2 separate regions of the Homo sapiens genome follow, and region 2 is linked to region 1. The links come from fine-mapping of genetic effects on gene expression. A gene starts in region 1. The other region holds a variant in brackets. All regions are shown on one strand. Distances are from middle to middle. Region 1 holds the start of CLSTN2 (calsyntenin 2). Region 2 has its middle 100 kb from the start of CLSTN2.

What was found. PIP is the estimated chance that this variant, and not a neighbour inherited with it, causes the effect.
Region 2: its variant is the best candidate, but not a certain one, in a credible set for the expression of CLSTN2 in lung (TOPMed, PIP 0.75).

What each region holds. Positions count from the first base shown.
Region 1 is chr3:139,926,711-139,943,106 of GRCh38, forward strand. CLSTN2 (calsyntenin 2) reads left to right here and starts at 8,475. Exons shown (of 17, transcript NM_022131.3): 1 at 8,475-8,773. The coding sequence starts at 8,665. RefSeq lists silencers at 8,473-8,522, 8,563-8,622.
Region 2 is chr3:139,823,895-139,840,290 of GRCh38, forward strand. No RefSeq gene overlaps it. Among named protein-coding and RNA genes, the nearest start is that of CLSTN2, 100 kb to the right of the region's middle. The variant A/G (reference allele first, on the strand shown) is at 7,203.

The DNA of each region.
Region 1 (16,396 bases):
CAGATGTTATAGAACATTGTATGAAGATGATATAATATATCCTGTCCCCTTTGGACACATGATTCATGACACATAACCACGCCAACCTGGAAAAAAATTTCTTAAATACTGAGAAATGAAAGACATAAAACTTTAAAATTACTTAGGTGAAATGATTTCCTTGGAGCAGTCTAGCAAGTCAGCTTGTCGATCTTAGACTAGAAGGCTCTGAAGAGCAGGCATAGGCTGCTTTTTGAGTTGGGAAAGCAAATGAACGTTTAACCCTTCTCTTCTCTTTCATAGGGATCTCTCCATTGGGGTGTTTGTGTGGAAGGCATTTCCTGACTCCTAGCTCAGTCAGCTCCAGGCATTTTAAGCACTGGTGTTTGTGCACTCTACTTATTGACTCTGACTATGTACCAAGACATGATATAGAAAAAGAGTTCTGAACCAGGACTCAAGAAAACTAGAATCTAGCCCAGGCTGTGTGAGCTTAAGCCAGTGATGTAACCTCTCTTTGCATCCATTTCCTTATGTATAAAACGAAAACAGTATCTGTACTACTCACCCTTTAAAATGCTTTCTTACTTAACACCACCCTCCCACCCATGAGTATGAATTTTGCAGTATCATGCTCAAGCTACATGAAAATATAAGTTCTAGATTTTTATAAGAAGAATATACATTTAAGTGATTTTTCAATAGGATGTTTATGTCAATAGTCAAAAAAGAGGGATGCAGGACAAAACGTGCTCTGCTCAGAGAAGGTAAACCATTCATTCATGCATTCATTCATTCACTCAGTAAATAACTATCTAGCACCCATGTGTCAGGCACATGAGTCTCGCCTCTCCTGCAATTTAGGTTCTATTGGGAGGAGGCTGGAAATAAATGAGCAAGTAAACTTTCAAGAAAATATCAGCAAGGAGTGATTACAGAGAATTAAAAAAGAAACGCTATATAGAGTAATGGAATGACTTCCCTGGAGAAGTGACATTTAAAATGAAACCTGAATGCCATGTGATGTAAGAGGGAAGTACAATCCCAGTTTAAAGCAAAGGCAGGAAAGAGCTGGTTATGTTCAAAGGACCAAAGGCCAGTAGGCAAGGTGGGAGAGGTCAGAGAAGCAGGCAGGAATAATCAAGTTGGGCTTTGTGAGTTAGACTAAAATGGTTTAATTTTTTTTTTTTTATTTTAAGAGTGATGAGAAGCCTCTTGAAGACTTTAAGATAAGCAAGTGCTTGGGGAGGTAGAAAAAATATTTATTTTGGAAGTAAGACTGAGAAGGTTATTTGGGGAGAAAGAGGAAGAGACTGTAGGTAGGTGTATTAGTGTGGAGGGCTGCATAACAAAATACCACAGACTGTGTGGCTTAATAACTTATTTTCTGACAATTTTGGAGGTGGGAAGTTCAAGATCAAGGTGTTGGCAGGGTTGGTTTCTTCTTAGGCCTCTCTCCTGGGCTGGTAGATGGCTGTCTTTTCTCTGTCTTCACATTATATTTCCAAATCTCCTCTTCTTAGAAGGAAAGGCACCAGTCATATTAAATTAAGGCCCACCTTAATAACCTCACTTTAACTTAATTACCACTTTAAAGGCCATATCTTCAAATACAGTCATATTCTGAATCATATTCTGAGGTACCAGTGGTTAGACCTTCAACACAAGACTTTTTGAGAAACACAATTCAGCCCCACTACAGTAGAGGGTCTAGCGTGAGCAAAGGTGTAGAAGCAGGATTGGTGTGGTCCCTATTGAAAAACAGTGGAGTCCCCAGACTGGCTGGAGCAGAGTTTACATAAAATGGAGTCACAGGAAATCAGGTTATCAATGGAAGTTGAGGCCAGGCTGGTGAGGGACTTGAATTTTTGTTAAGCAACTTTGGCCTTCTGCAGTAAGTCTTGATGAGTCTTGGAAAGTATCTGAGCAGTGTAGGAGAGCTAGGTATTGATGATCAAACCACTGGTTATGTGAAAGCCTTGCAGGAGAGGATGGAGTCAGGAGACAGCCTGAGGTGTGGAGCTTGAGTCAGGCCCTTAGGGACAGAAAGGAAATAAAAGAGAAAGGAACATCTCTAGGGAAGATCTCCAGTACCAACTGAGACAGTGGGGAAACAGGATTCCAACCTGGGAAACTTCAGAGAATCACTGAAAGACAACGACTTCTGTGTAAAACCTGGGATTATGGCCAGAATGAGTCAGGGTAGTGCATTTGGTCTCTGTACAAACCCTGCACCTACAGCTGTGGTGGAGGCTGGACACATTGCCTCACTTGGCTGGAAAAACATGGCTTCAGAGTCAGACAGGACCCAGACAATTCAAATTCCAGCTTCTTCATTTTTAGCAGTGCACCTTAATTTCTTTGAGCAAGTTGCTGAATCTCTTTGAAACTTAATCTCCCTAGATGTCCAATGGAAATGATAAATCACCTTTCTAGACTTTTGGAGGGTTGAAGTAATATGTGCAGTGTCTGGCTCATCGTAGGTGCTCAATAAGTGGTAGGTTCCTTCTCATCTCCCTTAGTGGAACAAAGCCCTGGAATGACACAGAGCAGATAGATTTAGGTACTTGAGACACATCTGAATTGCTCTGGCAGGGCACGTGGGCTGGTGCTTCCTGTGGCAGGATTGGCAAAGGTGCTGGTGGGGCTGGAGCTTCTGTGGTGTCATGTGTGTCCATATCTGTCCACGTTTTACCTGCATAGAAAACACCAAATACTGGATCAAGTCAGGCAAAAGGCTATCCACAACCTGTGTGGCCCTGGGTGAGTGTCCATTGTAACTATCAATGGCCCTATTTACTGTATCCCTACCATCTGGCATGGAAAGAATTCAGCAGTTTACAGTTCATTTTACTCTGAAAACAACCTGCTTCATTAGTCTAAGTTTATAGATGAGGAAACTGAGGTTCAGAGTAAGTAGCTTTCTCGAGTCAGACATCATTAGAAAACAGGAAAGCTAGGTTTGCAACTTAGGTCTGTCTGATTCTAGAAATCATTTTCTTTCCACTAAGCTCTACTTATTCCTTGCCTTGGCTTCTACAAGTCTCAACATCTGAGCTACAAAATAGGACTAATTACACATGACTTGCCTCGAAATATAATATTTATCTTTTCCCAGCCTTTGTTGTAGGGAACAAATGAAAATAAATATGTTCTATTTCCTCTAGATGTATTATAAATGACACCAAAACTTAGTGGTATAAACAACCATTTGATTACATTCATGGATTCTATGGGTCAGGAATTTGGGCAGGGCATAGTGGGAAGAATTATTTGGAACTTTCAGGATAACTCAAATGTTGGACTCAGCTGGGGCTGTAAACTACTTATATACAGCCTTTCTGCATGGCCTGTGATCCTTAAAACATGGCGGCCTTAGCGTAGTTAGAATTCTTACATGGAGGCTCCAGCCTCCATATGTGAGCATCCTAGCAAGCAAGGCAAATGCTGCATCACCATTATTATCTAGTCTGGGAAGTCACACAGCATCACTGCTGGTGCAGTCTACTGATAGAAACAATGCTCAGATTCAAGGCTGTTTGGATTCAAGGAGAAGAGATATAGATTCCATCTCTCAATGGAGGAAGAGCCACAGAATTTTATGGCTGCTTAAAAAAACAAACAAGCAAAACACCACAGGGCATAAAATTCCAAGGAAAGTATACATAAGTGTACTGGAATAATGCCTTGCTATTATTAATGATATCTTTGTTTTCAGCCAGGGCACTCCACCTTGCCAAGCATAAAACACTCATGTCCAAACAATGCTGAACTGGATTTGGTTGTGAACAAGCTTTTTTTTTTTTTTTTAACTTTTTCCTGAAGAGAAATGCCTAAACTTTTTTTAAAAGAAGTTCCTTTGGCAGCAACAGCGTAAAAACTTCCAAGAACAATGTTAAAAAATCTGCAAACTGTCCAGTTGTTCAAGCGTCATGAAGCCCCAGTTTTACCTGTCAAGATGGGAAAAAAGAATGACAAATGACTCTAGTTCTGTAAAGATCAGCTTTTCAACCTTTCTTTTAAAGTTAAGTACTTTTAGTTGAATTAAATCTGGGTCATGGAGAAAGCCTCAGTTTAATTTTCTTTTTAAAAATAAGTTTCCATAAGTATATATAATTTATTTATTTTCTTTGATTACCCAGCTTAAATTATTTAGGGCCTGTGTTTTGGTGCTTAATTGGGCAACGCATTAATGATCCTGGTGAAATGAGAGGAAATGGCTATGTTTATATGGGGCCTATGCCAGTTAGATTCTATTTTCTGGAATAGGGGAGTTATTTATTTATTAAGAACTATTGACCCAGATAAATTACCTGAGATTCATTATTACACTGCCAGGTGGTGCCCCAGACTTGAGGCTTAGAGTGACCAAGCTTTACATCATCCTGTTCACCATTTTTTTTTTTTGAGATGGAGTCTTGCTCTGTCACCCAGGCTGCAGTGCAGTGGCATGATCTCGGCTCACAGCAATCTCTGCCTCCCAGGTTCAAGCGAGTCTCCTGCCTCAGCTTCCCGAGTAGCTGGGACTACAGGCACGCACCACCACACCTGACTAATTTTTGTATTTTTAGTAGAGATGGGGTTTCACCATGTTGGCCAGGCTGGTCTTGAACTCCTGACCTCGTGATCCGCCCGCCTCGGCCTCCCAAAGTGCTGGGATTACAGGCATGAGCCACCGCGCCCGGCCCTGTTCACCATTTTTTGAATAAAATCTTTAGAGGAATATGCCACAATACTAAGTCCAGAATAAGTAATGGATATTCAGAGATTTGTATCTCTACTTTGGTGACAGTTGGCTATTTAAATTGGTCCTTAATCAGAGGTAGTGATAGATAAAGGTTTTTTAAAAATCAAATCCCCAAAGCTATCTTTTCTGATTTGAAACTATTTTTTGTTGCTTACTTATCCCGCATGCCTCTCCCAAAGTCATGATGTGTGGGAGAAAGATGAAATTTGGAATTAAGCAGACATGAATTGATATTCTGCACAATTATGCAAATATGGATAAGTTGCTCAAACTTTCTGAGCCAGTAATCTGATTATGATTAAATAGGGAAAATAGCACAATTGTCTTAGTCAATTTTCTGTTGCTTATAACAGAATACCTGAAACTAGGTAATTTATAAAGAAAACAAATTTATTTCTTAAAATTATGGAGGCTGAGAGGCCTGAGGTTGAGAGTCCAAATCTGGTGAGGTCCTTCTTGTTCATGTGGATTCTGTAGAGGTGGCAAAGGGCATCACATCATGTAATAGCTCAGGTCTCTCTACTTCTTGTTATAAAACTACCAGTCCCATTCCCATGATAACCCATTGATCTATTGACACATTAATATATTAATCTATGCACAGATTAATCTATTCATGAGAGCAGAGCCATCATGAACCAGCCCCCTGCCAAATGTCTCACCTCTCAATACTGCCACATTGAGGATTAAGCTTCAACATGAGTTTTGGAGGGGACACATATTCAAACCACAGCACACTTGTTGCAAAGATTAAAGAAGGTGTAGGTGTGGAATGTATATCCTCCATTGTAAAGCCTGGCATGGAAAGAATGAGGACTCATTAACTGTTAGGTTGCTTTACCCCATCTTTTGCATCTGCAATGGCCCAGCAGAAGCAGACAGCACAGTAGTGCTCCATACAAATGATGTGGACTTAAAAGCTCTTATGTCTGAGTATTTCTAAGGCTGAACTTACTTACTTTTATCTCCTCTAAGGCAGGTCATTGTTGCCTGTTCCCCAAATGAATCAAATCAAATGTGTGACTGGCACACTTGTTTTCAGAGATATAGGAAGTAGGATAAGGGGAAGACATTTTTACATTTATTGAACATTGACTATGTGCAACATACTGTTTAACATATTTTTAAAATTTACTTCTTGTAATGATCTTATGAAGTAGGCATAATGCTGCTCAATCAATTGCTCCAGAACATAATGAATTAATGCAAAAACCACTTATTGTATCTCATAAGTCAGCTGGATAGTTCTGATGTGAGCCAGGCTTGGCTGATCTTGGTTGAGCTTACCTGGGCTTGCTCATGTGTCTGTGGTTAGCCAGCCTGTAGGCCAGTTGGTTCTGACCAGCCTAGTGTGACCTTGGCTGTCTGAAACAGCTCAGTTCTACTCCATGCAGTCTCCTACCCTTCTGCAGGTTAGCTTAGGCTTGTTCTCATGTCAGCAGCAGGGATTCAAGGCAGGAAGAAGCAACATGCATGCCACTGTCCCACTGACCAAAGCAAATCATATGGCCTAGCTCAGAGTTGGGGTGGGAGGGCACATCCAAAGGAAACAGATTCAGAGAAGCATGGACAAATGGCCATTAGTGCACTTGATCTACCACAATAGGCATTGTTATTACCCTCATTGGTAGAGGAGGAGATGGAGGCTAGCAATTTTGTGCCTGTTGGTAACTGGCCCACCCCCTAGTGTTTTTCTTTGCTGTGTTCTTTCCTGGCTATCTCTCCATGGAGATGCTTCCTAATAAGCTACATTTCCCCCTGTTTCTCATTATTTGGTCTGAATTTGAAACTTCACATAAAATTATTAGGACCAATCAGTGATCTTAACAAAGCCCAGTATAATGACATCAAAGAACAGTGCAGGTAAGTCAGTAAGATAGGTCTACTTATTAGAGAAAATGAAGGGAGGAGGGCAGATATGTAGTTGGGTGGAGCATAAATGGAAGAAAATGAGACAAATTTACATTTCTCTTCTATTTTCTGGCTTTTTTATTTTCCCTGGGTCAGCTACCACCTTTCCATGCCATCTTTTCTAGATTCTGAAACCAACATCTGACAAAGGCAAGGTCCTGGTGTCGGCCTGGGACATTTACTAGATTTTTGACCCTGAACAAGGAAGTTACCTAACTTCCCTGAGCCTCTATTTCATCATGTGTGAAATGAGAATAATAGCGCACATGTTGATTTGTGGGCTAAAGGAGACCTGAAGGTAAAGAGCCCCACATGGGTCTGAGCCCCATGCAGCCACCATGATTCACTGCTGTCCCCAAGCACATCCTGGTGCCTGAAATCCTGAAGAGTTGGCTTTCACCACTGCAGAGGCTCTGAGTGAGCTGCCAGGGCAGCAGAGGGAGGCTGAGCTGCAGGAGTGCTGTTAATGGATTTTATGGCTTTGTTGAGTACCTCAAACTACAGTTATTAATTAGAGGATGCTGTTTAGGCACTCTTGCAATATATACATTTTGTTAATTGATTTGTATAGGCTCATAGCTAGCAACATAAAGAATGTGCAGGACCATAACACTTACAAGGGATTGTAATTGCCTTTGCTGCCCTCTCTGGCTCCCCAAGCAGGGAACAAAAGCTTTGAGGATAGGACCCACTCTCTCCTCTGTCTTTGGATCTCCAACGACTAATCCAGTGCTCACTGTCAGGGTGATACAGCCTGTCTAGATGCTCAGCAAACGTCTTGAATCAATGACTAAATAAATAATATTGTTTGTTTCTGTATTTCCATATCTACTTTATTTCCAAACTATTCCTCATAAACCCTGCATTGTGTGTGATGTTGGCATTTCATTTAGGTAAATATGGTCAAGGATTTATTCTGAGTCCTTACTGTTTTTTTTTTTTTTTTTTTTGAGTACCTTTGTAATTTTTTCACGGCCTAGAGATGGTTGAGGATGCAAAGATATGCACTGGCTCCTGCACTCAGGGAACTGACAATACTCAACGGCACGAGATTTTACAATGCATGACGTCAAGTAGCCTGTTCTTAGAGATGCGGAGTGACAACATAAAGGTGGCAACTTCTTGCATGGCACCATACCGCAGGGAATTTTAAGTTTGACACCCCGCCCCCGCCACTGCAGCCTCAGCAGGCCCAGCACCCCAAGTTTTCTGATCTAGCTGTTCTATCAGCCTCTAAGAGCCGCGGCTGCCCCTGCTTCTCGGAGATGACGCGGAGCCCTGCCATTGCCATCCAGGTCCAAGGCTATCTACTCTGCCCGACAACCCCTAGCACCACTAGGCGCTGCTCTAGTGTGCGCCTGGCGCCCTCCCCAGACCAGTCGACGCAGAACGCCCAGAGACCCAGCCAAGGGCAAGACCCTTAGCGACGCCCGTCAGTCCTCTCCGCCCAGATATCAGTTCAAAGGGCATGGCAGGTCAGGGTCCCTCGCGCCACCCCAGATGACCCTCAGGCCTCGGGTGGCCACTTTCTGGGGGAGCCCTCCATCCCTTGCGGCAGCTTTTCCGAGAGTCGGAGTGGAGGCGCGGGGCTGGAGGGCTCTCCGGAGCCGCCCACCAGGGTCCTCTGGGGGCCCGGTCCCGACTGGGCAGGGGGACCTGGACAGGGCCCCGGAGCGTGGAGACGGCTGAGGAAAGTTGGGGGTCGGGGCCTTGGGGCGGGGAGCGCGGAACCCGGCGCCGATGCCCGCGTTCATGAATATGCACGAGCCACCTCCCTCCCTCCGTGACGTCACGGGCCGTCCCGGGGTGAGCGCCTGAGCCGCTCCGGGTCCGCGCCAGTGAGCGCGGCTGCTGCCGGCGAGCTAGCGGCGCAGCGGCGGGAACCCGAGGCCGAGCGCCGCGGCGGCAGCGCTAGAAGCGCACCCATCGGGCACGGCGAGGCGGCCCACGGTGCGGCAGGCACCGGGAGGCGAGAGCCGGCGCGGACAGTAGGCGGCGGCTGCAGCTCGTTGGCGGCTGCTGCGAGGATGCTGCCTGGGCGGCTGTGCTGGGTGCCGCTCCTGCTGGCGCTGGGCGTGGGGAGCGGCAGCGGCGGTGGCGGGGACAGCCGGCAGCGCCGCCTCCTCGCGGCTAAAGGTGGGTGCTGGGGAAGTTTGCTCTTCTCCCAGGAGGGAGGCAGGGCAGGCTTGAGGGTGAAAGCGGCAAGGACCTAGGCTCAAGCTGGATTTGCCCACCCTCCCTTGCCGCAGCTTCTTTGGCCTCTGTGCGCCCTGGATTCCCGAAGTCAGTTCCCTGCGCAGCGGACCAGAGAGGTCCACCCGCGGACGTCAACTCAACCCCTGGGCGGGGTCCGGGGGCTGAGCAGAAGGCGAGGTCTGGGGAGTACGGACAACTTTGAGGGCTGTCTGTGCCGGGGTGGGAGCGCAGTGGGTGAGTTTCGAGCTCTGGCCCAGGGACGGCTAGAGCAGGGCGCTGGCGCGCCGTGGGGACAAGCAGGTGTCTGCTCCTGCCTGGGGGAAGGATCAGCGGCGGTGCTTTCAAGGAGGGAGCCGAGCTGTGACTTGTCTCCCAGCTCGGGGATGGAGTGGAAACTTGTAGGCTCCAGGGAAGGCCCCGCTGACACTCCTCAAGCTCCCCCAGGGCGTCTCTGACTCCCCGGGGAACGTGTACCCTCCGGGTAGGCGGCGGGGTCCGGAAGAAGCGCGGGATGTGAGGCTCCCCGCTGCCTTTCCTACTCCGCTCTGACTACCGAGGACCGAGGAGCCTAACCTGGCACCACTCCCCTGCCCACCCTGTTCCTTTGAAGAGCTTGACCTCCCCGCGCCTCCCGCCCGGAAGGAAGCTAGATCCAAGCGAACGCCTGGCTCTGTCAGGCGAGCCTGGAAGCCGGCGAACCCCGGACTTTGACAGCTGCCTGGGAGCGTCGGGAGCTCTGGGGTGGGGGGCCGGGTCTGAAACAGGAGGTCACGTGCTTGCAGGGGGTGGGGAGGCGAGGGAAGAGCAGAGCTGGTGGGGAACAGTGGTGGGCTCAGGGGAGGCTGTGGCAGATCCTAGCTGGGGCGCACAGCTTAGTGATAACTTGTTGATTCTCTGCGCTGTTCATAAGTAGGGCTTGCGTTTGGTTTGTGGACTGTGGCCAAATCCGCCAGGTGACAATGAGGGGTACTTGGTCCCCAAATCCTGCCTGGCAATCATCAGAGGGCGGAGGGGTTTGCGCCTGTCAGAAAATAGATTCCCTGTTAGAGACAGCCTGATTCGGACGCTTGCTTTGAGCTACACTTGACCACTAGCTTAGGGGAGGAAATGCCTATCAGGCTGCATTACTCTTGGAGGTTGGGGAGAGCTGGAGGCAGGCAGTTCGCCTTGTCTGGGCTTTAGAAACTGGCCCTCCAATAACTTAGGAGTGATATATTTGAGAAGAACATGGGAGATTATGTTTATCTGTAATTTTTAAATTTTTTGGTGTCATCGTTTTGAAAATATTTTATAAGCAGGCATTCTGTTTCTTTTCAGCATTTTTTTTCTTGGTGTATCTTTGACAGGCAGTTTCTATTTTTAGAAATGAGAAATTTCATGAGAGAAAAACTCGTTATGAAAATATCTCAGAGTGCGGTAAAGAAGTGGCTGATATGAAGGGATCAAGCTGAGAGACTGTTGTTTTGGTGAAGACAAGAATAAAAAACAATGAACTTCCAAACATCTCCCCCCTGCTTTCCCAATATAGACACTTTGTTAAACAGGCAAATTACTTTTTTGGGGGGTGGGGGGGAGGAGATTTCCCATCACTTTGTAGCACAGTAATTGATATAAGCAGATGTCTGCAAACGGGAGTTTGAAGGAGGGTGAGAAGCACACAGCAAGTGCAGAACAGGGAAGAAATCATTTGGGAAGAGGATCTGGTGTGAGTAGTAATAATGCACGGCTGAGTTCTCAGGTCAGAATGGGAAGCTTCATAGAGGTAAGCGAGAAAGAGAAGGAGAGAGATAAAAAAGGAAAATAAAAACCCCAGGCTTTCAATGATTCACTTTATGTGGATAATTATGTGCATTTTAACCAACATCCGACTTAGAACATATTCATTTTTTGGTTAAAACTAGGCATTTGTCAGGTCGGGCATGGTGGCTCATGCCTGTAATCCCAGCACTTTGGGAGGCCGAGGCGGGCGGATCACCTGAGGTTAGGGGTTCGAGACCAGCCTGACCAACATGGAGAAACCCCGTCTCTACTAAAAAAAAAAAAAAAAAAAATTAGATGGGTGTGGTGACACGCACCTGTAATCCCAGCTACTCGGGAGGCTGAGGCAGGAGAATCACTTGAACCCGGGAGGCAGAGGTTTCAATGAGCCGAGATCGCGCTATTACACTCCAGCCTGGGCAACAAGAATGAAACTCCGTCTCAAAAACAAACAAACAAACAAACAAACTAGACATTTGTTTTTCCAGGGTAAAAAGTTTATTGGCCCTGCAGATTGAGAGTTAACTGTCCGAATTCCCCTTGTTCTCGCTTCTTTCCCCTTCCAACCACTGGGGGGCTGCAAAGAGCTCTGTTTGCTGCTGATTTTTTTTTCAAGATAAATGTGTAATATTTGATTACAACAGAGACATTTATTATGACACTTTAGTTAGTATTTACAGGACTGACTTTCCTTATAACAATGCACTTGCATTTTATGTTTCCAAATCATATGATCTCTGAAGAATGTTTGAAATGATAAAGCTGTATGTTTTGTGTATAATGCACCCTGCCTCTGACTTTGCCATTTTTAAGGTTCATACCATTGTTATTCCCATCACAAAAAAAAAAAAAAAAAAATCAGGAAGGCGTGTGAAGATTGAACAAAAAACCAGATACTTCTTTCGTACAATTCTGTATTCATGTGTAGAAAAACACTGGGAGTCTGGAGTCAAGCTTTCTGACAGAGTTGAATGCACCCTCCAAACAACTGTCTGGAAGCATGTGCTCCCAGCTTCAGTCTTGTGTAAGATGTTGTGTCTGTGGTGCACAGCTTGTTCTGCCTTTGTGCTTCTTGCTTCTTGCTTCTTGCTTTAGGGACTCGAGCAGTTAATCCCGGACAACTACCTGGGGTTTTCACAGAATCACTGTACTTTCAGTGTAGACATATTTCCAATTTCAGAAATCACACAGTGGCCAGGCAATTATAACTCCTTCCCTTCACCCTTACATATTTTGGCTATTCAAAAAAGATAAATACTTCTTGGATTCCATGAAGAGACCAGATCACATGCTCATGTTCTATGAGTAAAGCTGGTAAGGTGTTGTGGACCCAAAGAGTTTCTGGAGGCAGAGAAAGACATGTCTTATCCAAGGGAAGGAAGACAATGCAATCTAGACAACACCTCAAAGTTTGTGCTAAATTTGGCAAAATGTCAGTGGTCCCAAGACCTCAAGGACTTGGTACACAGTCCTTCTTAAGTTCCCAACATCTAGGCATAGAGGTCATTTGGAACAATACTCAAGTATAGACCATCAATTGTTGTAGTGCCCGCCTTGTGTGCTAAGAGCCTTGCTCAGTGCTCTGGTTCTGAGCCAGTAGCAGAGGACCACCCTCCACCCCTCCCACCCCTACCTTTCTTTTTTTTTTAATTTTTATTATTATTATACTTTAAGTTTTAGGGTTGAGGAGCTTCTGTTTTAGTTGGAGAGACAAGATTTTTATGTGAAAATTTTAAGAGAGTGGCAGCGGAGAGAATTTGTCCAAAGTATAGTATTGACTGTGATAGAGACACAGGCAAAGGAGATGGGAGTGCAGAGACAAAGTTTACAAAAGCAGCATGTGGTAATAGGTAAGGAGGAGGATGGAGCAGAATTATAACAACAGTATGGTGTAATTGTAGTAATTTCAGTGTATGGAGTCCCTCTTTAGTATGTCACAGGCACTGTTGCTAATCCCATTACATGGGCAATCTCTAACTCTTACAACACATGCAGAGCCAGTGTTAGCCCATTTCACAGATGAAGAAACAAATTCTATGAGAGGGTAAATGAACTTGCCAAGACCTCCAGCTAGAGGGTGTGGCACTGGGATGAGAATATAAAGGTCACTATACCCAGTGCCCCCTATTTGTCAGATAGTCTTCCCAGTGGTTTTGAAAGCAGGTCTAGGGACCACAAGGAAGCTGAGCTGTTTGCATCTTTGAGTTACCCAGGAGCCCTTGTGGTCCTGCCCACAGAAGAGCACAGTATGAGTGTCTAAGGCTGTTTAAAAGGGCATGCAGGTGAGGTGAGGGAAACGGACCTTGCTCTCACCATGGAAACCAATGTTCTCGCTTAGAGCAGTCACCTCATTCTCTCTCCCACAGATTCAAAAACCATCCTTGAATATTCCAGATTGCACACTGCAGAACTTCCTGCAGGGGCAAAGGTAGTGTGGAATTTTTATGGTGGATTGTTCTAAGTCATCTTTGGGTAAGTAGCAGGTGTCTTCTAGTGGTATAACAGAGTCATTTTTCCAACTGAAGCACAAATGCCAAAAAGCCCTCAGCAATGCATCAGAAAGTGTACTCTGACCTGCTGCCATCCTGAAACGCCTGTGGTTCTTGGACCGGAATGTGCCCTTTACCTCTCTTGGATTCTCTGGGCATCAAGCTAGTAGGTCACCTTCCTCAGCCCAATTTTCACTGTTACTCAAGATTTGGCCTTCCATAAGGAACCTTCCCAGGCTGGTTACTTCTGAGTGACTTGCCTCTCTTTCCTGCATGCCTGTGTTTCCTTGTCTGACTCTAGTCCTCAGGGCTCAAAGACCAGTGCTAGAGGCTCATTCTGACTCTCCTGGTATCTCCAGAGCCTTGCCTCAAGATATGAGATGAGCAGTATGCAGTGATTTGCTTGGTGAACACACCTGTTTGTAATCCCTAGTGCTGTCATTTCTTGACATAGACAATTTATGTGTTTTTCCTTCTCCTCTATAAAGTAAAATTTGGGCATATGGCCAGAAAAACTTGAGTTCCAAACCTGGCCCTACTGCTTCCTAGTTAGATGATCTTGGACAAGTTAGTTAACCCATCTGAGACTCAGTTTCCTCATCTCTAAAATGGGGATACAGAGATCTACCTTGTAAAATAGTTGTCAGGGCACTTAGCCCAGTTTGGGGCATGTAAAATGCACTAAATATACAATGACTAATTATTGATCACTTGAACAGTTAGTTTAGTGTCTGAGATTTGGTGAATTTTTTTTTTTCTGATCTCTTAGAAATCCAATAGCTTTGTTCATATCTTTTCTCAGCTCAAACTGTTATCCGTTCCTCTGTTTCTCAGTCTCTCTCTGCCTCTCTCTCCTTGTGTGGATATGCACCTGTGTGTAAATATCATATATAAATGTAAATGCACATGCATACACACGCATTTGGCTTGACTTGTTTGTAAAAAGACATGCTTTTTTTCACTAGTCTATGGATGTCTTTGAAGCCAGAGCTCCATCTCATTCATCTCAAAGGCCCTGGCACTTAGTGCAGGGCCAGCTCAGAGTAAAGGTCAGCAATATTTGCTATCTAAGTAAATAAACAAGCCTGTCTCCATGTGCTAGTGCCAGAGGTGTGGGAGGTTCTGGTCTCTGGAGGGAGAGCTTATGTGGTGTGATCTGGGTTGTAAGGAAAGATCTCCTGCCCAGTTCATACTTTCCTCCAAGCCCTGCTACCTGAGAAAACAGAAAGGCATACTTTTTTGTTTAAGGTATTGACAAGTTTTGTGATAATACATGTTTATATGGAATGGGGTAACTGAAGCTATGATATTCAAATAACAGCTTGAAATCGATGATTGTTTTATTAGCTGTTATCTAACCCATGACTAATTGGACCCTGTGGAAATGGTTCCCTGGGAAAGACAGGTTTTGAGGGTAGACCATGGGGAGGCCTGAGCTGGGGAAGAGCACTGAGCTGAAGATCCTGGCACTGTGTAGGACAGAGGATCATGCTCTGAGATTTGGGAAAGAAACAAGCAGTAGGCCAGAGGGAGTATTGGTCAGAGGAGAATGGTTAGAATGAGAGTTAGCCCTTCCAGACATGCACTAGGTCCTGTTCTCTAGCCTTTTCAGCCAATTACTATTTCTCAGCCTCCTGTTATTCTCTGTGAGGGGAACAAAAAGATAAAAGCAAGTTCCAATTATCAAAGAGTTCACACTCTGTCTAGGGCAAACACTGCACATCACACATCACACAAACTATTGCAGAACTTGGTGACTTATGGGAAAATCATAGATTGTGCATCACAGACCCCCCGAAGCCTTGCAGGAAAGGAAGAAGTTGGCAACAATAGAGGTCAGGAAAGACTTATGGAGAAAGTAAAAGGGATGTTGATGGGTGGGTAGGCATTGGGTAAGCATATGTCAGGGGCAGGGGTTTGCACTGGACAGGTAAATACAAGGTGGTAAGAGTGATTGGCACACAGGCACGAGTGAAGAGGGAGCTCAGCCAGGTCAAATATTATTTCTGCATCAGATTCCAGAGCTAATAAAACAGTGAATGTTTATTGAGTTCATACTATGTGCCAAGCACTATCTTGAAGCACTTCACATATGTCGGTTGGTTTGATCCTCGTACCAACCCTATGAAGGAGGTAAATCTACAATCTTATTTTTACAGAGGAGTAAACTGAGTCACTGAGAAGTGAGGTAACTTGCCCAAAGTCTCAGAGCTCAGAGGTGGTAAAACTGGGGTTACAAACTCAGAATACACTGGTAGGCATGGGTTCCCCTCTTCACACAGGCTTACCTATTCAGAATGATGTGATGTCTGCTTGAGGAAGGCTCTGAGTGAGGTCAGAGAGGCTCTGCTGCCCTGGAAGGCATTGCCTTGCTGTCCAAGAATATTTGCTTGGATTTTACTTCAAAATTGCTGAAAGAATCGGTTTCCCTGAAAGCCTCACTCTCTGACTCACTTCTCCAAGTGAGCAATACCTGTTTCTTCTCATCCAGACAGCTTGAAGCCCTCCTCACCTCCTGTCATGCTTGGCCTCAAGCAGAGGAGGCAGCCTTCTGCACTGTATAGTCCCAGATGTGTTTGGAGGGGTCTCCTGCACCAGAAAGACTATCCCAGCTGGCTGGCCTTTGTACCGACAGTTCTCCTGATTCGGTTATTCATTTGGGTTAAATATTGCCCTCTTCTGACTCCGTTTTAGGCCAGGATACATACTTTTAAACATATTAGGTGGCTAGATAACAAAGTGGATAAGAAGGGGATGTTGAGAGGTGTGCATGGCAAGGGCGGGAGGAGATCATATAGGAATAGCAGATAACCAGACTGTTGATCGGGCTGCCTTTTCTTCCACTCTCACGGCAGGATTTTATATATGCCCATTGTATTGTTCTCAGATACCCCTCTTACACATTGGTAAATGCACATTACAGGGCATATAGCAGCAGATCAAAAATCAGGACAAGGGGTCAGACTGTGTGCAGTTGATTGCAATCCAGCACCAGCGAGCCAGTGTGGTGAGCTAGGTGACATCTTGGACCATGGCCACTTGAAGCCCATTTCTTTCACTACTGAGCAGTTTTCTAACTCTAAGGACAGGCAACTTATTTCCAATACTTTCTCAGGATCTTGCTTGTCTCCAGCTCAAGACCCTCTACTCATATCAGTCCTCCCCAGAGATTGGCCAGAGATGCCCCTGATCAATACTTTTTTTCCCTAGCTCACTTTGAGCCTCCTACCCCACCCAAGGCTCACTCAGTATCTGTTTCCTTTAGGATGCCGCAGCCCCATATGTCCCAAACTAAGCTCTCATTTTTCCTCCAAGA
Region 2 (16,396 bases), 100 kb before region 1:
GTTTGGGAGGACAAAAGTCTGAAATCAAAGTGTCAGCAGGGTTGGTTCCTTCTGGAGGCTCTGAGGGAGAATTCTTCCTCGCCTCTTGTAGCTTTTGGTGGTTGTCAGTGACATTCAGTGTTCCTTGGCTTATAGGTGCAGTATTCTAGTCTCTGCCTCCATGATCACATCAGCTTTTCCTCCTTGTCTCTGCATGTACTTTTCTGTCTCTTTTAAAAATACTCTCACTGGGTTTAGTACACACCCTAATCCTGTACGATCCTATCTCGACCCTTATCTAAATTATACCTATTTTTTCTTGTTATTTGTCATTTATTTATTTTATTTTTTGTAGATCTGGGATCTCACTGCATTGCCCAGGCTGGTCTGGAACTACTGGTCTCAAGTGATTCTCCTACCTTGGCCTCCCAAAGCACTGGAATTATAGATGTCAGCCACTATGCTTGGGACAAAGACTATTTCTAAGTTAGGTCACATTCTGAGGTTCCAGGTAGACATTAATTTTGGGGTGACACTATCCAACCCACTATAGATCTCTAATTCCATTAACCAGGTGTGGTTCTCTGCTCCCACTTACTTAGGTACACACCTTTTAGTGATAACCAGGTATGCAAGCAACAGCCCCCAAAACCTGCAAAGGAGCAGGAAAGGGAAGAGAGGTGACTACTTGTTGAGGGTCTTCATGTACTTAGGGCCTCAATAGGCCCTATACAGCTCTCAATTTCTTTAATCAATCTTCCTAGCAGCCCGTGAGAAATATTACTGTCTTCAGCTTCCTAAAGGAGAAAACAGAGGCCTGGAGGGATTAAAAGACTTTTCTAAGATTTTAGAGGGCATGTTAGGGTTCAGGCCCAGGGCTGTCTAACCCAAGGCCTAATTCCTTCTATTACATCCATCATACATGAGTGAGCACTGGGCATGAGGATACGTCAGTGAAAGGGGCCCTGTAACATGGACCTTACATTTTGGCTGGGGGAGACAGGCAATGAATACATAGGACCATGTTGGGAAGTGCTAAGTACTCTGATGATAACACAGCAGGGTGAGGTGACAGAGGTCTAGGGAGAGTGGTGTTCAGCAAAAACTTCTCTGGGGAGAGACATCTACACTGAGGCTCAGCTTCAAGAAGGAGACAACTGTGAGTGGAGACCAGGCAGGAAAAACAGGAAGTGCAAAGGCCCTGAGCTGAAAATGAATTTTACCAAGTTAAAAGAAAAGAAAAAAATCCAGCGGAACTGTGTGAAGTGGGGGTGAAGGATGGTCCGAGATCAGAGGTGGGTGGGCAGTGGCCAGATCAAGCATGGCCTTGTGAGTGAGGAATCGGTATTAGTGGGAAGCCTTGGGAAGAATTGGATTGGGAGTATATTGTGCTCTAAAGTGGACCATCTGTGCTCCTTTGTGGTGCACTGATTGTACTAGGTCAAGGGGAAAGCGGGAGACTGGTTAGGAGACTATCATGAGTTATCCAGTGAGAGAGGAGAGGTGCTGGAGGCCTGGCCTTGGATGGAGGCCATGGAGATAGATAGAGGGCAGGTGAGGGAATTTGGGGGATAGAGCTCGATCGGGTGATCAGTTAGATAGAGGCTGTGATTTGGAGGAGTAAGCAGGAGTGGTTCCTCTGTTTTGACTTGAGCCATTGGGTGGAATGAGGTTCCCCTTACCAAGAAGGGGTGTCTGGTAAAGGTGAGAGTTCACCATGTGTGGGAAGACATCCTGCCACCCCACTTCCTTCTTCATCCTACCCGAGATAACATGGTAAGATGTTAGCTGCCATCCAATTCCCTGTGCACATTAGACAAACACATTACTTTCCTTTTGTCAGTTGCCTGGAAGTAGAGCACTGAGGGAAACGAAAGCTGTGTTCTATGGAGGGTGAAGAGAGAGGGGGTGGATTCTGGGGCCTGGGACACCCCTGAAAGGCAGGTTGAGGAGACGGGGACACTGCTGGGGCAGCTTGAGGACAGGAGGGCTGCAGGCATAGAAGAGCAGGGCCCAGCATGTGGAAACTGAGATGGGGAGGGCAAATGTCACTGCGATGGCCTGAATGTTTGTCTCCTCCAAAACTCATCTTGAAATTTAATCCCCAAAGTAGCAGTATTGAGAGGTGCGGCCTTTAAGAAGTGATTAAGTCATGAGGGCTCTGCCTCATGGATGTATTATTTCATTTGTGGATAATGAATTAATGGGTTATCACAGGAGTGGGGCCGGTGGCTTTATAAGAAAAGAAATAGCAATCTGAGCTAACACACTCAGCCCCCTCATCATGGGATGCCCTGCACTGCTTTGGGACTCTGCAGAAAGTCTCCCCACTCCCACCCAGCAAGAAGGCTCTTATCAGATGTGGCCCCTTGACCTTGGACTTCTCAGCCTCTAGAACTATAAGAATAAATTTTATTTCTTATAAATTACCAGTTTCAGGCACTCTGTTATAAACAACAGAAAATGAACTAAAACAATCACCAATTTGATAGTGTGAGGAATAGCAGCCTGAGGAATGGGGTCAGAAACTGGCAGGGGCAAGAGCAGACTGCAGGTTGTGGATGGAGCAATTGGGAGGAAGAGTCGGGATGCATCAGTTAACACCCTTTGGTATGGTGCTGGCAGATGGCACAGTGCAGGCATGGGGCCTCAATGAACCCCTTAGGGTGGCCCTGTTCTTGTAGACCATGACCCTAAGAAAAGCAGCTAAGAGGTCCACCAAGTTGGCCATGTCTGAAATCATCTTGCATGGGACACTTCCTCCTTTTCACCTCCCACATTTCCTGAGGGATTTCAAGTTTAACAGGTAAGGAAAATCTTTAGCTAAAGGATGAAACTCTGAAGGTGGCATATCAGATGTCAGCCAGAAGTAGGGAGAACATCTCACAGACATCAGGCTCCTACACACCCCTTAGATCACACCATGCAAGCTGCCACCCTCCCTCTCCACTTGCAAATACAGCCTGTTTATATCTCTATCCATCAGAATATTCTTTTTTTTTATACTTTAAGTTTTAGGGTACATATGCACAACGTGCAGGTTAGTTACATATGTATACATGTGTCATGTTGGTGTACTGCACCCATTAGCTCATCATTTAACATTAGGTATATCTCCTAATGCTATCCCTCCTCCCTCCCCCCACCCCACAACAGGCCCCAGTGTGTGATATTCCCCTTACTGTGTCCATGTGTTCTCATTGTTCAATTCCCACCTATGAGCAAGAACATGTGGTGTTTGGTTTTTTGTCCTTGCGATAGTTTGCTGAGAATGATGGTTTCCAGCTTCATCCATGTCCCTACAAAGGACATGAACTCATCATTTTTTATGGCTGCATAGTATTCCATGGTGTATATGTGCCACATTTTCTTAATCCAGTCTATCGTTGTTGGACATTTGGGTTGGTTGCAAGTCTTTGCTATTGTGAATAGTGCTGCAATAAACATATGTGTGCATGTGTCTTTATAGCAGCACAGAATATTCTATTAATCAGATCATCTCTCTCCCCAAACACACATTGTCTGTATCAGGGGCCCTTGTAGACACTAAGTTTAGATGTAAATACTTAAAAATGGTTATTCATGCTACATATATTCCATAAAGAATCTAAGGAAACTTATGAATGAGGAGAGTTAAGGCAAAGATTTTCTAAATGGCTTTCTGAAAGTACATAAAAGAAGGAAGGAGGAACTTATACCAGGAAATCAGTAGGAGAGATAGTGACTCTAAATTTAGCTCAAAGCTCATGGCATCCCAAGAAAAAAGGAAAGTACACTTGTTTGTTTTGTCCTCCGTGCCTGAAAATGGCAAGCCTTGCATAAGTAAACATCTGGGGAAGCACTGTGCCATCCTGGAGGGAAAAAGTGCCTTGGACATAGACAAAGATCTGAGATTCAGATGTGACATTGGGAAAGACGAATTTCTTTGAGTACAGGGTGTATCTTCTGTAAAATGAAAGCAATTATTGTAAGCAGGGTGCCTAGTATGCACTGCCCCCATTCTTGGCTCATAATTCTAGAAGGGGATGTGTCATGAGGACCTTATATAAGAACCTATTGGTAACAAGACACAATGCCATCTGGTCAAATCCGCCTCCTCTCTGGCCTCATGACAAAACTGGCTCCTGGAAGTATAGTCTTCCCAAAGGAAAGAAAAACACCCTTAGAGACCTGGAAGTGGGAGCAGAGAAGCTCCCCTCTGCCTTGGACTGATGTTTCAGGCACCCAGCTGCTGCTGAAGTGAAGGTAATTCTGTCTGGGTCTGCAGTGTGTCTTGGAACAAAAGGCTGGCAGCATTGGAAGCTGCTGAAGCCTCCTACATTCCTTAGAAAGCCCAAACACAACCACACACTTCTGAAGCTGGCCAAGCTTCTGTCTGGATCATCCCACCATGTTCTGTAAAATCCTACTTCTTCTGGCACCTCTTTTATAGGATCAGTGTCCTCATGGAAACCCTCTTCCGTCCCCTGTCCTATGTCAGGCCTCCTGGGGGCAGAAAATTAGATTGCAAAATCATTTCTTGCTGCTCGCTTCTTATAAAAACTGCACCTCTCCTGCCCCCAGGAAGGCATTGCTCTCTGCTAGGGACACTGAGAAAAGGAAGAGAAACAAACTCTTAACAAGATAACACCAATAATATTAATAATGACAGCAGTCAGCATTTATTGAATGTCATGTTATACCAAGCATATTAAAAGGACTGTCTCATTTAATCCTCAGGATGACTCATTTCTATCTCTCTTTTACACAGCGGCTCAGAGAAATTCAGCAACTTGTTCAGAGTCACACTGCTGTTACATAATGGGGAAGGGAGTAAATTCATAAGTCTGGAGTATCAGCCACTTCTCTTATCCATGTAATGGTTACCCTAGGTTTTTCCTAATAGGAACATTTTATCATAAAAGAGCTCTTTTATCCTATAAATGTATGCACTAATTATAAAATTAGCTATTAGTGAAAGAGGTATTTTGAGTTAAGGAGGACTGTCGTAGGGCCCCTTAGATGACACCTTGGATATTTTGTCTCTTTGTGCCTCAGTTTCCTCATCTATAAAATAGAGATAGTAATACATACACACTTCAGGGGTCATTGTGAGGTGTAAATGAGTTACTGTATGTAAAGTGCTTAGAACAGTGCCTGGCACAGGGTAGGTGCTATATGAATGTGATTATTATCACAGTTGTTATTGTCAGGGTGGTGACTTCCATCTTCAGTCATATCTCAAAATTGTCCTCCTATGAGCAAACAGGTGGGTTCTCAGGAGAAGGAGAGCAGCAGGTACCACCTGTACTCCCCTGTTCTGGCTCTTCTGCCAAAGAGAAGAACAAAAAAGTCCTGGCCAAGCATAGATGAGCTGGATCTTTCTAGCTAGGGGAAAGAAGAGGAATCCCAGGCAACCTGCAGTGTTTCCCGACATCCCAGGATACAGCCCTCCTGTGGTGCTGATGCTGGGCCAGGTTGAATGCCATTATTTTCTATAGGAAAGGGAACAGTAGGTTCTCCAGCAATCCATGTGTCTGAGGGGAAGGACTGGATCACCCACAGAATTGGACTCAGTAGACTATCAGGTGTATCACTTGTTATGTGTCAAGCTTAAAATGTTACCTGAATTCTGTCTTCTCTCATTCTTCTATTCTTAGTTGGATTATCTGATGCCTTGTGGACAGGGTGTGTGACAAGGACACATGGGGAAAGAAAAATTTGCCCTTGGTGTAGTAGCATGCATGCACTCCTGCCTCCTAACTGCTTGGGTCCACAAGCTTTTCTGGTTATAGCTTTCTATTGCCTTGGGCTGGGCTCCCACACAGATCTAGCCCTTTGGGGACATTCTCTCATTGACCCCTGAGTTCATATACATTTATAACCAGATCATCAGCTTCTGCAGGGCAGTGGTTGTATGTTTGATTCCCACTCTGTGCATGGCCCTGTGTCAAACACTCAGTATCACAGGACCACAGAGGACCTCTAGGAGGTTCAGGTGACAGGGACTGTCAGTGTCTTGCCTCCTTGGGAGGCTTGATCCTTCTCAAAGAATCATAACATCACAGGAAACTAAGAAAATGTGAGCCCATTTGGTGAGTGCAGATTCAAACACATCATAATTTTTCAGATACTGCTAATTAGCCTAATTAGCAAGGTCAATTTGGGCCAGCTAACCACTGTGCCATCTCTTCACCTGTATTGTTCAATTCATGAAATGCTTACTTGGCACCCACTCCAGGCCAAGCACTGTAGCTAGGGCCCAAGACATGTAGAATTAAAGAGGCACAAACCTGACCCCAGAAGCTGACCTAAAGGAGGGACGTCTAACAGGGAAATGGCTGTGTTGCCAAATGAAGGTGGAGCAGTAAAGTGCAAGGTGGTGGTGTCATGTGCAAGGCACAGTGTAGTGCTTCATACATGAGCTTGGGGCTCATGCAGAAAGCATGGGGCATTGCATAAAGCTTGGGGCATTACCGAGATAGTAATACTTCTTCTGTAGCACTTTCATGAGGATTACATGCCAACAGATGTATATATATTAGCTGACTTAAACATGGAAACACACCTATGGCCAGGGTACTATTACACATTTTATTATACATTGTAAGTGCCTGGCAAATTTTAATTGCTGCTATTATTATATTGAAGTAGCTCAGTTTAAGCAAATTCTGTTGGCAGATGGGCAGGAAGTTCACACAGAAGAGGTGAGGTCTTTGCAGGGTTTTGAAGGGTAAAAAGATGTTCATCAGGCTATCAACAGGGAGAAGGACATTGCAGGTATTGAGATAAACATGTGTCAAAAGCATAGCGGTGAGACTAGCACAGTGTGTTTGAGGAGCTGGGCAGCACCATTTTAGCCTGGCATAGAAAATAGAACACCTAACGGCCTGCTCCCTCGAGCATTTCCCACTTTCCCCTCAGGCTTGTAGAATGGGACTACGGAAACAGCTTCCTTTCCCCTTCATGTAGGAGATGCCAACACCCACTCAATCCCATGGCAGCTCCAGCACAGGCAGGCTGTTGGGTCACTATGCTGGTGACCTTTCTATTCAATCCGCAGCTCCAGCTGTACAAGCCTGGAGGCCCCACTCAGCCAGTGAGGGGAGAGCTAATTGGAAGATGAGGCATCGCAGGAGGCCTGACATCCTTGCCCCAGGCCGTCTCTGGTGCTGCAGCAGATGGCTTGCCTTCTCCGGCCCTTCAGAGACGCCCCCTCACAATCACGGCTCCACAGCTGCCAT[A/G]CGCGAAGGTTAGCTTGGTGCTTCAAATGTGTGCCTGAAAGATTATGTAACTTGCTGGCAGGAGAAAGCCGCTACACTTGGCGAGTTTAGCAAAATTAAATGTGTCAACATTCGGTTTTGAATTTGAAATAGTGCAAATGTCTCCTTAGTCCCATTTGAATAAAAAAAAAGTCAAGATTGGTCATATTCTTTCTAAAATGCTATAGATTGAAAGTGTATTTAACTCATTCATTTATTTAACAAATGTACACGGAAGGCTTATTGTGTGCCAGACAAATGTGATACATTAGGAATCAAACACCGCTGAAGAATCTTTCCCTCAAGGAGTTTACATTCTAGTAGGGCAGGACAGACAATAAATAACTGACACAATACTGACATATGTTCCATGCTATGACAGAAATTGAGAAACGTCATGGAGTAAATTTGAAAAACAAAGCAGGAAAAGGAGATTGGTGTTCTGGGGGTGATGCTGCACGTTAAATAAGGCAGTCAGCCAGGCTTTCACAGAGAAAGTGGAGTTGACATTGATTGTATTTAGGCACCTTTTCACTCTCCTTGTTGGCAAGTGCTTGGTAGGCAGGTCAGGGGGGAGCAGCTGGAACTGCTCTGGGGAGTCTGGAGAGAAGCCTCATTCTTGCCACCTAGGGTGCCCAGTTGTCCCAGTTTGTCTGGACCAAAGGGCTTCCTAGGACATGGGAGATTCAGAGCCAAAACCTAGTAAGTCAAGGAAAATGGAGACAAATGGTCACCCTTATCCCCACACCAGTGGTTTAGTGGACTCTTACTTTTAATTCAGCCCCAGTGAGCCATCAACCTTGCCACATAGAGTGGACTCTGGCTGACCAAAACTTGAGCCGGGTCTTACCTGTTTTTAAAATTCCTCAATGCCTAGTTGATTATTTGTTTTCTTTAACCATTAGGGATTTCATCAAGATCAAGCAGGGAATAACTTTCTCCTCTCCTCCTGGATTTGTAGCAAAACTTTGGGGCTCAGAAGGAAAGCAAAATGAATACCCATTTCTAATGAGCTTTTGAAAGTCTCCAGAGAATTTTTGCTTAGAGACACTGTAGAAGTGTAGAACTGAAAATATTCATCTTAAATGAGGTTTGAACATTCCCCCAATGGTTTCCGTTGCCGACGCTCCTCTGGCACCACAGACATTCAGGGGCTGATTGGATTCAGAGCTCCTCCAAGGCAGGGCTTGCCTTATGCAGCTTACTGCTCCTGGCATTGAGCAGAGGACCTTATCTCTGGTAAGATGTCACTTCACACTTTGTTGGTGTTAATCACATTTTTCATCTCCCAGGCATGTCAAACTCAACTTGTGCAGAATCAAGCTCAGCAATCTCCATTTCCCTTACCCCCAAAACCTGTTCCTTCTCCCAAGTTCCAACTTCAGTGAATGGCTCCATCATCCTCTAATTACCCAAGCCAGAAGCCTACTGACTCCTCTCTCACTCCCACAACTCACGAATCACTCAGCCTTACCTGTGTCCTGTCTCCCAAACTTGCTCTCTTGTCCTCATTACCATGGCCACTGCTCAAGTCCAAGTTCCAATCACCTGGCACCTAAGATGATGGGAAAATCATCTCATTGGTCTTCCTATTGCCTCCCCAAATGGTTTTCAACACCTACAGAGAGAGGGATCTTTATAAACATATGCAACAGATTCCATTACTTTCTATTTTAAAAGGCCTTCAATAGTTTTGTATTATTTATTGGATAATGTCCAAACTCATTAGCATGGCCTATTGGGTCCTCTGCAATCTTGTCCCTGCTAACCTACCTCACTTGAAAACAGCCCAATTCCCTACCACTTCATGTTCTGATTGAACTCAGTAAATTCACTTTCCTTAGGAGCGTTTGTCACTGTTTTTACTCACACACTTCTCTGGAGGGTCCTTCTCCTTTCGAATTTTATTTCAAGCTCAGCTGATGTCACCCTTCAGAAGACTTTCCTGACTCTTCCAGTTAGAACTGGTGTTCTGTGTTAGCTGTTGTCTGTTGATACTCAATGGTCCTCCTGACGTTCTAAGCTTGTTCTTGTGTCACAGAGCCTGGAAGTCTGGAAAGCACATTGTCCAGATTCCTTTGCCGGCAGAACATGGAGTGATAGAAAACAGGGGCTGGGTTGAGGCAAGACAGGTAAAAGTTCCAGCTTAAATTCTTCAAATGACAGACTGGCGCATGAGATTTGCAAGGCAAAAGCAAATAACAAATCATTATTTCTTCCAGGAATGGCAGATAGATGCATGGAGAGATGGCAGTTTTTGATGTTTTTCTTTTTTTTCCCCACTTGCTGATTTCCTGAAAGCCAGCATCGGCTTTCCATTCCCATTGCTTCCCCAGCTCTCCCACCAGTTTTATGAGTTTTGAATTTCTTGAGATAAATTCCTCCCTCTTGAAATATGCAGAGTAGTTTGTATTTCCCTAACGGATATGTGTGCTTCCTACTTTCTCAGGCATAATTAGTGTTTGTGTATCCAGCATTTCATCCAGGAGCTGGCAGTTAATAAGTATTAAATACTGTTGTTACTAAGTTAAATTGAATTGAATTATACAAAGAAATAAAAATACCATGGGTCACTTACCCATCAAGGCTAGCCCCTGAGGCGAGGTGTTTCACTCATTTCATTGCACCCGTTTCTTCATCCTCCTTCTCTGTATGTGTAATGTCAGATCATGTATGGAATGAAATGCAACAAAAAGAAAAATCCTTTGAAGTATGACAGTCATGGGTTCAAATCCCACACCTGTTACTTATTATCTGTGTGATCTTGAGCAAGTTACTAATTTCTCTAAGCCTCTGTTTTCTAATCCATATAGTGAGAATCTTTATGCTTTACAGAGTACTTATGAGGATACTCAATAAACATTAGTTCCCTATCCTTTCCAGTGTAGAAGAAACATAGAATTTTTGAAATTTAAGTGGCCTTAGAGATTATTTGTGACCTTATCCCCTCATTTTACAAGGAAACAGAGGCCCAGGCAGGGAAAGTGATTGACACAAAATTACATAGTTATTGAGTGGTGAAGCCAGGACTAAGGTAAAGTCTTTTGACTGAAAGTGCAGTTCATTTTTATATTATAGATATAAATAATGATGCTGATGAAAATGAATATAATTTATAATTGCAGAAGGACAGAGACGTTTCCTCAGTCAAGGTCCCAAATGAAGAAAACATAGAGCAAAGGACCCTCTTTTCCCACAGATGTCCTGTGACTTAATATAGTGTGAGTGGGAAATAAGCACTTGCTTGGCTACTGGGATTTGAAGGCTTTTTGTTACTGCAACATAACGTAGCCTATCCTGATTGAAAGAGGATGTGAGCTGATTGGGAATCCATGGTGTTTGGCTGATGTGGGATATAGCAACTCACCCAAAGCCTGTATGAGATGCATGGTACTCAGAATTGCCAGAAATATCCATGTTCCACATGAGAATTGAGAACTAGAGTATGGGAAAGAGACACAGGCTCACTTGTCTCATATACATTTTTTTTTTTGGAGTCTGCATCTAGGACCTAGAAAGATTCTTATGGGTCAACCTGGGATCCTTGTGTCTGGTTCTTGGGCTCCTGAAACCACCTCCTTCCTTATTCTCTCAAACCAGCTTTGGATTGTTCCTTACATATGGTCTGAGCATCCCGGTATATTCAGGGTCCTAAATGTGGGGTTGTTCCTCAGAGAAGTGGCAGATTTTAATCCATGAGTGGACAAACAGGTATGAGAATTCTGGCTATATAATGTAAATATCATTTTCCCGGATTGATGTGTCAAAAGTAAGATGGAATTATTATGAATCCTATGGCTAAGAAGAGAATTAAAAGCTTTAGCTAGAAAGAGTCCATGATAAAAGCAATTAGGGAACCCCTCTTTGAAGATGAGATGGCTATACAAGGAGGTTAAAGACAGTCTGCATAGAGTTGAGAAGGGAAGATGAGAATAGCCCAAGAGAATGACTCAAGCATATGAAGGCAAATTCAAGGTGCAGCACTTATCTGAGTGGGAAGGCAGTCCCGGCACAGGTTTTGAAGAAATGTGTTAGAAAAACATGTGAAGCTTGGACTGGAAAAGAAGTAGCAGAGCCAGGTAGGAAAACCATCATAGCTGAATGAAGTCCAGGTTAGATGTTGGACTGGTTTGCTGAGTGTAAGCTCCAGGAAGGCAGGGACTTCTTTTTGATCACTGCTGTATCCCACTATCCAGGGCAGTTCCTAGCCCGTAGCAAGGCCTTTATAGATTGTTGGATGAACGGCTGTAGAGAAGATACCCCCTGGTGTTTTTCCTTTCTTCAGAGTGACAAAGGTAGGCAGGACATATTTGGAAAATGGAAACTTTTGCCTCTGACTCTGGCTTTCTCTCTTGCTATGGGAGACCATACCTGACAAATACAGTCGAAGGCTAGAAACACAAACATCTGGGTCTGAAACAAACAAATAAACAAACAAAAAATAAAAAAATAAAGCACCAGGATCTGGCAGAAAAAAAAAAAAGAGAATACTAGCCCTGCCCATGGTAGAGAAGGGAAGAGGCTGACTGAAGAGGCAGGTTATTCATTTTAAAACTGAGCCTGAAAGGAGCCAGAGAATGACAGACAGAGGGAAATGGAATGCGAGAGGCCTGTCCCACTGCCCCAGGAAAGGAGGTGGCAGGAAGAACAATTCAGAAGATGAGGAGAAGTGAGGTTTCAGAAGGGAGCCCAGGGCAGAAGAGATGGTCTTCTCTGGAAATGTGAACAGCAGCTTCAGTTCCCAGTGTTCATATAGCTGAGTCAAGAAAACTAAGAAGAAAAATGCCCTAATTGACAGGATTCATAGGGCCTGGACTGGAGGCAGAACAGCAGCCAACATGGCCAGGCCAGGAAACATTCAAGGCTGCAGGTAACAACTCCAGAAAAGAGAGTGTGAGAAGAGCCACATGTGTTTGGCTTGGGCAAACCCTGCTTGCAGGAGCAAAGGGCATGGGAGACCAAACACATGAAACAGCCCCAGGGGTGCCGGGAACATAGGCTCAGACGTGAAATGGGAATTAGGAGTTTTTATAAATTTGAAGGAGATGGAACCCCAAGTAAAATCTGGAGGCTCGGCTGCACCTGGGCAAATGCCAGTCTTATTGGCAACTGTAGTGAGTTTGAAATTCAGAATCTTTTCTATGTCTCACATTTGTTTTCTCCAACTCTTCTTTCCCAGATGTCACCAAGCATCTGCTACATCCCATGGCTGGCAACAGAAACATGGCTTCTGAGAACATAATGTTGCTCAGCTAAATTTGGTAGGTTTGGGGCTGGGGCTGCGATATTCTTGTGTACCCTATTGACTTTCATATCCCTTGCAAACCAGGACACATGAGGGCCTTGGGATTGGATAAGTCCGACCTCCTTGTTGCTTCAGGAGTCACACCCATTCTGGGTAGACACGCAGTGAGCAGCTGCTCCCAAAGGAGACACTCAGACTCCAGCAGGGAAGCTACCCTGGTTGAGACGAGGGAGACTCCAAGTCTCAGGGAGGAAAGGCCTTTCATTTCTTTGGATTTTGATTTGCAAAGGGAAGGGAGCTCTGGTTTTGAACTTTGATTTTCCTCCTAGAATTTAATAAAGGAGAGGGCTCCAGAAGGCTGAAGTTCAGGGTATTTTTAAGTTGCTGGTATTGTGCTCATTGGGGTATTTTTATGCTGTCATGTGATGTTTGTGGCACAGCTTCCTCTACTGAGCTATATTGGACAGTGTGGCTTGAAATTTGAGATGGAAAATACAATCAGGATAAATTTTTGGCCCAGGGTACAGTGAGGACTTGGAGTGATTTTACTGAATGCCTTGTTCTGATTATTTCAGAGGCTTCTGAAGGTAACAGCTGAACTGCCCCTCCCTCTAGCCCCTGGGTAGTGATGAGAGGCATGAGCGTATGTTGTGAGAGTAGAGTGCCTCTGCTGGCCTCCATCCTTGGAAGGACAGAGGTACCCTGGCTGGTCAGGCTTGGCAAGTTGACCCAATGAGATAAGTAGACAAAACCTGGGTGGAATCAGGGAAGAACCCTAATCCCACCTGATTTCTGTTTTCGCAGAGAAGAGCCTTCTCTTTCTCTGCTATCTGCTAACTTAATCCTTCTAAGGGCGGTGGAGTTGCTAACATTCAGGCCAGGTGTTGACCAGGAAGTGAAGCGAGATTATTAAGAGTACACTTACACACAGCAAGCTGCATCACAAGTGCCTCAGAATGCTTGAAAATGAGGTCCTATCTGGCACAGCTGCCCAGGGTTTGGTGAGTAGATGTATTTGTGCAGGGACAATTGTGCCCCTTTTGCCTTTATAGGATGCTTGGTGAGTGAAGCTGGGGCTAGCTTCTAGTTCCTGCTTGTCTCCTCAGGGGATGTTTTCAGCCCTGAATACTCTTTCTTGCTCTCCACTCAGCACTAGGTGAGGCCAAACTGCAAGGCCAAGCTCTGGACCTTTACTCTCTGTTCAGCTTCTTGGGGCCTATGGTCTTCAAGTTGGGAGAGGCAAATGAAGGAAAATCTCCTCCTTAGCCCAGCTTGTTCAGTGGTTCATGTGCATTAGGAGTTACTGTGTACCCATCTGGCCCGTGAGTAAAACATCATCAGGTCCCTTCTACTTAGCATCCCTTGTGATATCCTCTGTCTGCCAGAGTCTTAAAAGGCAGGAGGGGTAAGAGAAATAATAAATCAAACTTCGCCCCGATTTCTAATAACAATGGTAATTAATAATATTTATTTTTTATATAATAACAACATGAGGTCTTGTGGTATTTAAAAACTGTTTTTTTAAGGTGATTTTATGTCATGGCTGAAGATTTTACACTGTGGCTTCTGACAGAAATGAATGATGTGTAAACCCACATTTTGATCCATCAGAGGCTTCACTTTTGCCCTCCTAGAACACTATTGCCCTACCTAGGGCTTATGAAATCCTGTTTGTAAGAATTTAAGCCAGAATATTACTCTAATAATCAGGCCAAGCCTGCTTCATCCAGGTATTCACCTATGACATGATCAAAAAGTGTTCTTTAATTAAGTACTTTGTAAGGTGGACCAAAGAATACATTGAACATGACTGAGCCTCATCCACACACAAAGAGGAGAAAGAAATACTCGTTATAGTTCTATGCATAGACTGTAAGAGATACATAGTGGGTTCTGATCACCATTTCCAAGTCTTGCACAGAACTTTGCAGAACCAGTGTGTTAACCTGGGCTTGTCTTCCTGCAGCCTTACCTGTTCACATCTGTGGGTTCTCTGTGATCAAGAACTGCCTGCCCTGGGAAATCCATTTGTTTTCCTCCACTCAGTGCCAAATGCCTTCGTCTTTGTTTCTGCAAGCTCTCAACATTCACTGTAAGTGTTGCTTGTGAGGGGGCTTTCCAGTCTTTTCTTGAGCTTTGCATAATTCTACCTGCCTGCCTTTGGTTTAATTCAGGAATGGCTGCGGAGGCTGCAGCTTCTGCTTTTTTCTAAACTGAGTGCCCTTATGCTAGGGGTTTGCCTGAGTCTGAGGGGTTTCCTGGTACATAGACTTTCAGTGCTAAAAGTAGGAACGTTCCAGGCAAGCCAGGATTTGTTGGCTTCCCTACCTAGTGCCCTGATTGTTTTGTCCTTCTAGTGGCTGTATTCCCTGTACCTGATGAGAATTGCCTGCTTGCTCTAATGCCAGCCCTTTGACCTTCTGGACTTTCCACCAGCCAGCAGCATGCTGTGTAACTGAGCTTGCATAGGAATATTGGGTGTGAGTTTGAATTATAATAGATAATTAAATTGAGCCTTTTCCTCTTTTGTGTGTCCTGAGCCTGTGGGAGAGAAAGCCTCACAGACATAGGTGTTTCCTATTGTCTGCAGGGTCCTGGCCAAAAGGCAATTCAGAAAGTGGGTCTTACTTTGGCATCCAGCCCCGCCATGCTTAGAAGTATTGTTGTGTTTCTCTGGATTAAAATAGCATCTCCACCTCTTCTACACAAAGTTGGCATTCTCTCTTGTTTCAGATCCATTCCATGCCAAATATGCTGAGGTTGGTTTGGGAGTTGTGTCACTTTCCTCAGTTTCTCTTGTTTCCATGGTGCTGACATGGCCAACTACCAAATTCCTAGGATTTTTTTTTTTTAGTTTGAAAAGTCTGGTCTGTTGCCACAGCACCTACAGCCATATGGAACTTTCCAGTGGCAACCATGTGACTCAACAAGGGAGCCAAAATGCAGTTTATAAGATCTTCTGGAAATCCGTGCCTATGGGTTTGGCTACAGTGGGTAATGTTCTGATACCATCAACTCCAGGACAGAAGTAATCTGTTTGCAATTCCAAACTCATTATTTCTTTATTTGCATTCAGTATCACAAAGCCATTCATGAGAAACCCATTTTTAAAGCCTCATTACTATGAAATTTGTTAAACTGAGTGTAAACATTTTATCAGCAATATGTTCTGAAGAGTCTTTTTTCTTTTTTAACCTGAAACATCATTTCACAGCTGCCTGGCTCCTAGGTTGGGTCACAAGTTAATAATGTCTCTACCTTGAAACAAAATTAGGCTGTGGCTGCCTGTCTTATAAATTAGGCCACAGTGAGATTTTCATTCCTTATGGCTGCAGCAGTAAGCAGTGCATCATCATTATGAAGCTTTCTTTTTTACTGTATCTTGTTCTATCAAGTGTAATCAGAGGGCCAGGAGGGCCTGTGTTCCTTGGAAGGAGATTTCAGGCACAAAAACATTTGGTTCATGGGCCTCAGGGGAGTCCTGGTGCTTTTCACTCTAGGGAGGTTGCTTGGCACAAATGTTGTCCAGACAGCAGAGATGCTCTGGGATAGAACGACCTTTCCAAGGGTAGAAACCAGATTCCCCTTTGGCTGACAGCATACTAGAGTTGAAATAGCCTCGACCCTTGACCTTTTCTGATGTTACAATATTTTAAGTTTAGGTTTACACGTTTATGATTCAAAAGTGTGTTTGTCTCTTCCCAGGCACATTGGTTGCAAGTGGTGGAATCCTCACCAAATGAATAGGAATAACTTGTGCTCAGAACAACTAAGCAGAAAAGGGGAAAATTGGGAGGGAACAACCCACTGTCCATCAGGTTCACCTGAGTTTATGTTTTTTATTTTTTTTCTTCTTCTACTTTTATTTTAGGTTCTGGGGGTACATGTGCAGGTCTCTTATATGGATAAATTGTGTGTTGTTGAGGCTTGG